2 separate regions of the Homo sapiens genome follow, and region 2 is linked to region 1. The links come from fine-mapping of genetic effects on plasma protein levels. A gene starts in region 1. The other region holds a variant in brackets. All regions are shown on one strand. Distances are between the middles of the regions.

Region 1 (5,389 bases):
GCAAAGTGCTTGAGATATATATATGAATTTGGAATCTCTCCTTCCCCTCCCAAGTCATTGGGAACATAAGTTTACCTCAAAGCATGGAAGCTAGACCCTCCCCACACTAGAGTAATGAACAGCAGTGTTGTCCACAAATCACTCAGAGTTCCTCAGAGAGAAGGACAGTGGTCCCGAGAAGTGCTTCTCAAACTCTATGGACAATCTTTACAACTGGCAATGTCAAAATGTGTATTCTGATTTAGTTGTTATGGGAATGCATAGATTTTATTAGACTGTACTTTAGACAGGGAAGGAATGTCACACAAGTTGTAGACTGTATTGGCCAGGATTTTTCAGAGAAACAGAACCAATAGGATTCATAGAGGTAGATAAGTGAGTTGCAGTTTATTACAGGAATTGGCTCATGTGGTTATGGAGACTGAGAAACCTCAGTCCAGGCCACCTGCAAGCTGGAGAACCAGGAAAGCCAGTAACATGGCACATTCTGAGTCCAAAGGCCTGAGAACCAGGGAAGCCAATAACATCACTCTCAGTCTGAGGTCAAAAGCCTGAGAACCTAGTGAGGGATGTGGAGGTTGTGGGGGCAGACTGGTACAAGCCCCAGAGGCCAAAGCCAGAGAATCTAAAGTTCTAGTCCAAAGGCAGAAGAAGAAAGATGTCCCAGCTCACTAACAGAGACAGAATCCACCTTTCCTCTGCCTTTTTTTCTATCTGGGCCCTCAACCAATTAGTGGTGCCTGCCCACATTGGGTGAGGGCATCTCCTCCCCACTCAGTGCACTGAGTCAAATGCCAATCTCTTCTGGAAACACCCTCACAGATATACCTAAAAATAATGCTTTACTGGTTCTCTGGGTGTTCCTTAGCCCAGTCAAGTAGACACCTAAAATTAAATGTCTCATAGGCAATGTTCAAAAACCAAAAACAAACAAACAAAAAATTGAGACTTTTTTTCTAGACCAGTGTTTCTCAACTTTAGCTGCACATTTGAAAGACCTGGGAAGCTTTGTAAAAAAAAAAAAAAAAAAAAAAATATATATATATATATATATATATATATATATATATATATATATTTAATACAATATCAGCCCAAATGTCATCTCCACCTCCTCTCTCATCAATTGACCAGAGTTTTGGGGATCTTGTTTCAAGTGGTTCTAATGAAAAGCCTGTGGCGGAACTGCTACCCTACCAGTCAACCAGCATCACTCAAAATCTGGTCCAAGTCCTGGTGTGGTCCTGAAACTGTTGCTTGCTGGTTTAAGACGAGATAAGTACTGAAACTGAGAGTAAGTGTATCTTAATCTGTTCAGGCTACTATAGAAGAATAACATAGACTAAGTGACTCATAAACAACAGAAACTTATTTCTCACAGTTCTAGAGACTGAGAAGTCAGAAATCAAGGCACCAGCAGATTCGTTGACTGGTGAAGGCCCATTTCCTGGTTCATAGATGGCACCTTCTCATTATGTCTTCACTTTGTGGAATGGCAAGGCAATAGGGCCTCTTTTTTAAGGGTGCTGATCCCATTCATGAGGGCTCTATCCTTATAATGAAATCACCTTCAAAAGCCCTACCTCCTAATACTATCACATTTATGATTAGGTTTCAACATATGAATTTTGGGTGGACATAAACATTCAGACCATAACAAAGTGTTTAGAAACTTTTATAGCAGTATGACAAATTAAGTTTATTTGTAATCAAATGTAATAATAAAAACAGATGGATTAGTGAAAAAAAAATAGTTGGCTTACAAAGAAATACATTGAAACCCCTTGAATGAATGATCTAAATAATTAAACATATACATCTCTGGAAGTGAGGATATACCAGGCCCCTTCTTTAAGCTGTTATGTCTTAAAGCTGAAATGTTAACTTCAGTGATAAATTCCTCAGGCAGAGCATTGGCACCTGGCTACAACAGGGTTAATGAGCAGGAGTAGGGTAGGTGGGGTCACAAACCAGGAACACATGCCCTCCAAGTTAGATAGCTTTTTTTCCTCTTTAATTGCCGTTTAAACACACATGCTCTCACATAACACAGAAGGTGAGAGCTGAATGAAGTTTTCTGGGTAATGGCATGAAATGTTTTCCTTATGAGAAGTGGTGTTGAGTTACAGCGTGCAGACGGAGAACGGGGAGGAGAGAAACGGCAGTCTCAATCTGGCCCCCACCTTTTCTTGGGCTTGTAGGAAGGTGGACATGGGCTCCCGGAGACAAGACAAGTGATATGTTGAACTGTTCGGTGGCTGGAATCAACTGCTCCTGGAGTGACCTAAGGCCAGTGTTTATCAGAACTTAGCCAGGGCCAGCCAAGCAGGCACAGATGCTCTGCTATGAAATGCCACGCAGGCAGAGACTGACAAGCGGTAGGAACTGAGCTTTCCCCTTGGACTGCTGCTTCCTGCTGTGTTCAGGGGAGGGGGTCACTTTCTGGCAACTCTGCTGCTGCTGCTGCTGCTGCTGCTACTTCAGCTTCCTCTCCACTCAAGGTAAGCAGGCTAAGGGAGGGCAGGCTGCTAGGGAAAGCTTTGTACCATGAACAGGATCCGAAAGTTTTTCCGAGGAAGTGGGCGAGTCTTGGCATTTATCTTTGTAGCTTCTGTCATCTGGCTCCTCTTTGACATGGCAGCTCTCCGCCTCTCATTCAGTGAGATCAACACTCGGGTCATCAAGGAAGACATTGTGAGGAGGGAGCGGATAGGATTCAGAGTTCAGCCAGACCAAGGAAAAATTTTTTACAGCAGCATAAAAGAGATGAAACCTCCCCTAAGGGGACATGGGAAAGGGGCATGGGGCAAAGAGAATGTTAGAAAAACTGAGGAGAGTGTGCTCAAGGTTGAGGTGGACTTGGACCAAACCCAGAGGGAAAGAAAAATGCAGAATGCCCTGGGAAGGGGCAAGGTTGTGCCGTTGTGGCATCCTGCACATCTGCAGACCCTCCCTGTGACTCCTAACAAGCAGAAGACAGACGGGAGAGGCACCAAACCTGAAGCCTCCTCTCACCAGGGGACACCAAAGCAAACGACAGCTCAGGGGGCTCCAAAGACCTCATTCATAGCAGCAAAAGGAACTCAGGTAGTCAAAATATCAGTACACATGGGACGTGTCAGTTTAAAACAGGAGCCCCGGAAGAGTCATAGTCCCAGCAGTGACACATCAAAACTAGCAGCTGAAAGGGACTTGAATGTGACCATCAGTCTTAGTACTGATAGACCAAAGCAGCGATCACAGGCAGTAGCAAACGAGAGGGCACACCCTGCCAGCACAGCAGTGCCGAAGTCTGGGGAAGCCATGGCCTTAAACAAAACTAAGACTCAGAGCAAAGAAGTCAATGCAAATAAACACAAAGCCAATACGAGTCTTCCTTTTCCTAAGTTCACTGTCAATTCAAATCGCTTAAGGAAGCAATCTATTAATGAGACACCTTTGGGAAGTTTGTCAAAGGATGATGGAGCTAGAGGGGCTCATGGGAAGAAACTCAATTTCTCTGAAAGCCATCTTGTGATTATAACCAAAGAGGAAGAGCAAAAGGCAGACCCCAAAGAGGTCTCTAATTCTAAAACCAAAACAATATTTCCTAAAGTATTGGGTAAAAGCCAAAGTAAACACATTTCCAGGAATAGAAGTGAGATGTCTTCCTCTTCACTTGCTCCACATAGAGTGCCACTGTCCCAAACTAACCATGCTTTAACTGGAGGGCTAGAGCCAGCAAAAATCAACATAACTGCCAAAGCCCCCTCTACAGAATACAACCAGAGTCATATAAAAGCCCTTTTACCTGAAGACAGTGGAACGCACCAGGTGTTAAGAATTGATGTGACACTTTCTCCAAGGGACCCCAAAGCTCCAGGGCAGTTTGGGCGTCCTGTAGTTGTCCCCCATGGAAAGGAGAAGGAGGCAGAAAGAAGATGGAAAGAAGGAAACTTCAATGTCTACCTTAGCGATTTGATCCCAGTGGATAGAGCCATTGAAGACACCAGACCTGCTGGGTAAGACCTATTTCTCTTCTCTTTCCTCAACCCCAAGTGCTTTGGCTGTTATGTAAAGAGGATTTATTGCTAGATAATTCTGTGTGATTTTTGGTCACCTAGAGAATTAAAGAAACATTAATCATTGGATATCATTCAAATATTTCACCAGCTACAGAGACAAAAATTCTCTTATTAGCAGTTGCAGAGTTCTTGTTCTCTGAGACTTTGGTCCCTACCATTAGCTCATGTTCAATTTTCTTCCCTCTGTTGAAAACCTATTAAAATGATTAGATGAACTCAGTTCATAATAACGTGTATATAAATGGTAGAGCTTAAAGTGTAATTCCATTAGAATAGTGACAATGAAGTGAATTCCCAATTTTGGAACTTTTCATTATTAGCAAGTTTGTCAGGAATATATTTGGGAAAGAAGCACACAGAAGGACTCTTCTAGGCCTCCCTGGAATCATATCTTAACCAGCAGAATTCTGCCTAATCATAAGTAATGATAAGCAGGATAGCAAGAGAAGTGACTTTACTCCCTAAAATTTAATCTCCTTTATAGGTGGAGATGGTAGATATTTCAGGAGATCAGTTACATAGGAATCATAATGTTGGAAAAAGTCAATCAGTCCATGACCAGCAAACACCTACAGGAGGTATAAAAAGCATAATAATAATCACTTATATTTGTAGACATTCACTATTTACAAAGAGCCTGCATACACATAGATGAACTCCATATGAGCCCTGCAAAGGAGGAGGCAGTCATTATGGTTCAAATTAACAAGCTGGCGAGGGCGCTCAGAAGTTACAACACTTTCTCAAGGTAATGCAGTTCTAAAGCTGCCCAATGGGCCTTCAGTAACCAGTCCTTCAAAAAGTTAAATTCCTATAACTATATCACCAGATGTGGATCAAAACATAGATATTTAATCTGATTCAAATATAATTGGGTTCCTGGCATTTTTTTTCTTGGCCCACTGATAAGTGAAGGTACTCAACAGCCGTATGTTCAATATCTGTTAACTCAGTTCCCTAAGTCAAACAATATTTGCCAGGAAGTTGGATTGGGGAATGTCAAGATTGAGACTTAGCACATGTGGCATGTAAACAATGGCCTTGTTTGGCTTCTGTAGAAAATTCTTCTTTGTGATCTAGGTAGTCAGCATTACATTTTAGTCAGTGTTACTAGGAGGAAGGCAGATACAGGAGAAGCTTTATCCACATTAGAAAGAAGAGTCTCTTCATTGTGATGTCGGCTACAACCAGGTCGTTTTCCATCTCTTAGCCATCAGCAAACAGCTATCAGCCATGCACTGCTTATACCAAGCACTGTGCCATTCACGCTTCTCACCCTGGTGATAATCACAGTCTTGAGGAGAATGCAGACATACTCAAAGATG
Region 2 (5,389 bases), 85 kb before region 1:
CAACCCCTGAATCAGAAAGTTCCAAAATGTCTTCAGTTTAAGTATACTTATATAAACCAATATAAATAAAACTCCATGCCATCCACCTATTTCCAAAGGGCCTCATAGTTGACAATTTACATTTGCAAGAAGACTAAGATATGACTCATTTTATATCATATTGCTCTCAAAAAAGGCTTCATTAATTTGTACTATGCTGAGTGGAAATTATTCAAGAAGGCTGCTATTTCAATAGGACTGATACTTGCCCATCTGGGTAGATCCATATCACAAGAGTTCACTGATAGACATATTCTGATGTAAAACCTTTTTTCTTGTTTTACCTCTACAGATTTTTTCACCTCACTTTCTCCTTGATTTTATCCCAAGTATTTTGAAAATGTTCCAATTTTGACATCAATCCAATTGCTGAGAACTCTAGCATAAAATGAAGAAAGACACATAAAAAGAACAGCATTAACCATATAAGCACATTCATGCCACATTTATAAGGCAATCAGAGAAAACATGCATATGTACCCAAGTCAGGCAATTTTACATGTGTAACAACTTATCTAATTAAAGAAAGAAATATTTGACAGATCTATACTGGTCAACTAATTACACATTTTCTTTTAACAATAACTAGAATTCAGATGCCATCTAATTACTATGTTTTCCATGATTGAAACCTTAAAATTTTTTTCTTATGTATCAATTGCAATAACATAGTTATTTACATCTATTTTTCTTGATATCTTTATTCTAAATGTCTTTCTTCTTTGCCTCAGTAAAAGTATTCCTCTCTATTGCATATAAATGCTGCATGATAAAAGTACCGCAAAATTTAATGTCTTAAATAGCCTTTACTAAGCTTACAAGCCTTCAAGTCAGCAAATCAAGTTGAATTCTGCTGGGCTGGTCTCAGGTGGGCTCACTCGCATATCTGATGGCTATAGTCACAGAAGTGACTAGACCATGTGTCTCTCATCATTCAGCAGGTGAGCTTAAGCATGTTCTCATGGCAAAATTGAGGAGAAAAAAAATAGAAACCTACAAGTGCTATTTCAAGACTCTACTTGTCTCAAGTTTGCTACCAACCATTGGTCCAAGCAAGTCACATGGGCAATCACCGAGGCAGTGAAGGGTACAACGAAAGGGCATGCATACAAGACACCTGGATAAACTGGGACCATTCATGCCACATAAAGAAAACATGCCTAAGTGCACAGTTAATGCAATTTTACATGTGTAATAGCATTCTAACAAAGGGATAAATCCTGTTATCTGTGCTGATCAATAGGTTAACTGGTTTTATTTAATAATATATTACAAACTCAAATGCCATCTATTTGCAATGTTTGCCTTGATTGAAACCTTTAAATATTCCATATTTATCATTTGCTGAAAAACTTTACTTGATTTCTTTATTGTAAGAGTCTTTTTACTTTCAGCCCAATGAATAAATAGACAGGTAAACCTCTTCCTGGTGTGCTGTTGGTTTTGCTGGAGAGCCTCTGTTCTTGAATTGAGGTGCTGACTGTTTATTTCCATGAGTCAAAAAGCAAAATTTAAACATACCAAATTGTCTACTGTCCATGGTTGGATCTTGGACAAACACAATGCAGCACTTTAAATATGGCTGTGGAAATGATTACTGCTGGTTGCTCATGAGGAATTATTCATCATCACCTCATGTGTTTGGTTCTTTCTTCACCTCCTACTCCACAGACATGAGTGCTCACCATTTTGTGGCCATATCTAAAAGAATTATTAGTCATTAACCTACCTCTTCACCAAACAAGTATTTTTCAAATAAGTATTAAGAATATTGTTTTTAATTGAAAAATAAACAACCCAGGTATATTTTGTCTACTAAACCATGGTTTTATTAAGGGTCGACATAAACCCATGCCGCCTCAAACTTCTGAAGCAATCAAATAGGTTATATGACTAAAAGGAACTACATATTATTAAGGTGTTTTTCCCTTCACATAAGATCTTTAAAGAAGATACTACAGCGGTAAATATAAGCCAAAAGCCTATTTTATGTGAAATTTTACCATACCTTACTTTTTTTTTTTTCCTTTATTTTACTGGATTTCAAAACACACATGTACATTGGCATGAATGTGACCTGTCTCATTATGAATAAAACACCCAAGCAATATGAGCACATTTTAAAACAACAAAGAGTGTACAAAAGTTCAGTCTTCTGGAAAATGCTTGAAAGATATTGTGGATTTTTCCATTTACAGAAGCCTTATTGTTACTGTCCTTCCCACATCTGCTATTCATTTTGGGTACCTCCCCACAATTCAGTGAACAAAGGTGCCAAAATGTTGTTATTAATAATTCTCAAGTACCTTCTTCCTTTACTTCTAAATAAAAGATCTTTAATATATAGAAAGGATACTTAGTTTCACGTGAACCAGGATGCATAGTCTTAGCTACAGGTCTGTGGTTTGGGTGACACTATTTTGTGAAAACAAGGTGCACTGGCAGTTTGAGAGGCACAGGGCACAGTGTTGAGTGTGTTCTCTAGGATGAGATAAACCCAGGACACCAGGACCAGTTCAACCCGGGTCTCACAGAGATTGCTACGAACACTTGGCAACTTCTCAAACCCTAGTTTTCTCATCTGCTTATAATTCTTTATAACTACAACAATAACACAAATGTCCTAGGGAAGGCTATTTTCTGGGGGAAAAAAAAACTGCAGAAGATCTTTCTATAAAGGACAGTACTCTATGACATAAATTCCCAATCTCTCTTTTTTTGTAAATGTAGAATTTTGCCTTTTGATTTTTCCCTAAAGGAAGGCACGCCTATTTTTCTAGAATAAACAACCACAGAACTTCGTTAGTTTAGGGGCGGAAAACGTAAAGGTAGTGGTGTTTTTGTCCCACTGGCACAGATGCTTTAAGCTTTAAAACAACCTCCTACTTCTTAATCCCTCTCTCCATATTCTTGCCAAGCTCTCTGGAAATCTGAGTTTTGGACACCCTCCAATACCACATCTCATCCATATGCCTGCCACAGAGGAAGACATTCCGCAGGCTCTTTCCTTCACTCTATGAATGATTCATGTGTTAAGATCTTAAATACTCACTGAACGAAGGACCTAATGGCTTGAAAACCTGATCTGACGTCAAGGAATTGTGCTGTTTTAGGGACATGCTTCTAAGGCTGGTTGTTTATCCTTGCT[C/G]AATCCCAAATCAGAAAGCCCTCTATTAGGCAAGCAGAGAACATGACGGTGTCCCCTTTTTGAGAATCTTTTCTGAGACTCACATTTCTAAAGAGCATTTCAGCTCCGGTGTCAAAATGGGGAAATAGACTTTTGCTGACAACAGTATATTTAAGTCTACACCAGGAAAAGTAAGTGAAAGGTTAATGTTATCATTTCATTTTCCTCCAAGAAAAATAAACCATATTTTAAAAATCACTTTCACCACCTACAGCAAGATCACAAAACAAACTACAATCTACAGGGAGAGGCTGGCAACTAAAATAAGTGGGAATGATCAAGCCAGAGACTTGGTCCAGTCTAAAAGGGTACAGTCCTTACTTAGCTAAATTTCAATGATTTTTAAGGAAGCACATGGAACCAGAATTGCCAGAACTTTCATAAATTCAACAGAAGCCATAAACCTTCATTCTTATGTGAAGTCTCCCACTTTTAAACATCGGTAATTAATTCAGACAAATGTAAACATTGTATAAGCCAAACAAACACATCTGTAGGCCAGATTTGGCCGGTAATGCCAAATTTGCAAAATTTGACCTCTAGCTCTACTTACTATTATTTCATTTAAAACTGTTGTAAATACTTTGGAGAAAAATTAAATGGAGCTTAGATTCCTTAAAAAGTCTGTAAAACCCTGTCACAAGACTATAAAATGTCAAGAAAGTGATTTTACTTTATGAAACAGGGGAAGAGTGGAGGCCTTTAGAGATAGAAAGTTAGGAGTTAAAATCTTGGCTCAACTGTCTCCTAGCTGTGGGAACTAGAAGATGTTACTCAAATCCTCTGAACATACGTTTGTGAAACGGTGAGAATATTCCTTTCCTATATGTAGTTTATAATTATATAATTACATAGTTCCTAGCATGTAGTAGGGACTTAATAAATTATGACTATTTATATTAGTATAATTTTCAGGATCATTTTAATAATAAACCTATAAAGATTATTAAGGAAACTAATACTATTAGCTTGTATTTATTGAGCTCTCATTATAATATAGGCACAGATCTTGTCCTGACACTTTTAATCATGAAAACAATCCTATGAAGGAAGTTCTATTATTAACTCCACTTTACACACAAGAAAACTAAGGACCAGCATGGCTTATTATCCAACCCAAGATGACACAAATAATAAGAGGCTGTGGGGAGACCGGGAAGGATTCAAAGGCTTCCTGCTATAGCATCTGAACTATTTACCATTACAATAAATCAAAAAGTATGCTATATTCAAATTAATATTTGAGTTTGTTCCAAGCAATAAAGGTCTTGGGATTGTGAAAAGCATTTTAACAAAGAGGAAACGTACTCTAGTCTTACTGCAAAAGACCACCCTAAGCAATTTAAGGTAAATGCTTCTTTTTTAAACTTGGAAGGAAAAATCCAGATTTGCTCTGAACACTGCATGATAATCTCTGGAAGTTAGATAAATGTCTCTTCTTTGTATGCACTTATATAACTTTAAATCTCTTAACTTGATATAAATTGAATCACTTAATATGTGTAATTTGTAATTAGTTAAGAATTATTTGATAGCACTTATAAATAATTAGCTTTAGAAAAAGCACAGGGGTCCATAAAAAAGCATAGATTCTCTTTATGAAGGCAGAAAACTTTGGGTAGACTAGCCAATTTCCATTGTCTTTCTTTTCTTTTTACCAGAACCTCAATTTTGCTAGCTTCTCACCTCTTCCTATCATGATAGGGAAGTTGAGTTCATCCCCAGTTGCAGAGTTGGGTCCTGGTTCATCCACAAATAGCTCCCTCCTGGTGTCTCCTACAGGTTTAGGGACAGGGATGTAGCCTGACTAAAAGGAAAGACTTGCATTCTGTGCTTGACATAAAACGTTCATCTCTGGCTTTTGCAGACTGGGAACAAGAAGACCTGCAGGGTCAACTGACATGAGGAACTACTTCCCCCTTGAAAATGCAAGAAGAACCAGTCTCGGCATAAGGTAGACACCTAATATAGCAGAGGAGAAGGTCAGAAATAACAGAAGGTTTGCATGAAATTATTGAATCAAAGCTCACCAAACATCTTGGTCATTAGTTTTATGAGACAGTAAACCACGATACTATCATCAGTGTTTTTTGTTTCTGATATGGTTTGGCTGTGTGTCCCCACTCAATGCCAGCCCGTGAAAGCAGCTGGGAGGGAGGCTAT

Alleles and levels. Alleles are on the strand shown, and positions count from the first base shown. The strength of an association depends on the size of the effect and on how common the allele is.
For the plasma level of the protein whose gene starts at base 2,170 in region 1, allele G in region 2 goes with a lower level than allele C (moderate association).

What was found. PIP is the chance, under the fine-mapping model, that this variant and not a neighbour inherited with it causes the effect. The UK Biobank Pharma Proteomics Project read protein levels with antibody pairs (Olink). The fine-mapping took linkage between variants from a reference panel, not from the people measured, so its PIPs are less certain.
Region 2: its variant is fine-mapped to the plasma level of the GALNT5 protein (UK Biobank, PIP above 0.99).

What each region holds. Positions count from the first base shown.
Region 1 is chr2:157,255,536-157,260,924 of GRCh38, forward strand. It overlaps GALNT5 (polypeptide N-acetylgalactosaminyltransferase 5), which reads left to right and starts at 2,170. Exons shown (of 10, transcript NM_014568.3): 1 at 2,170-4,001. The coding sequence starts at 2,548.
Region 2 is chr2:157,170,808-157,176,196 of GRCh38, forward strand. No RefSeq gene overlaps it. Among named protein-coding and RNA genes, the nearest start is that of GALNT5, 84 kb to the right of the region's middle. The variant C/G (reference allele first, on the strand shown) is at 3,188.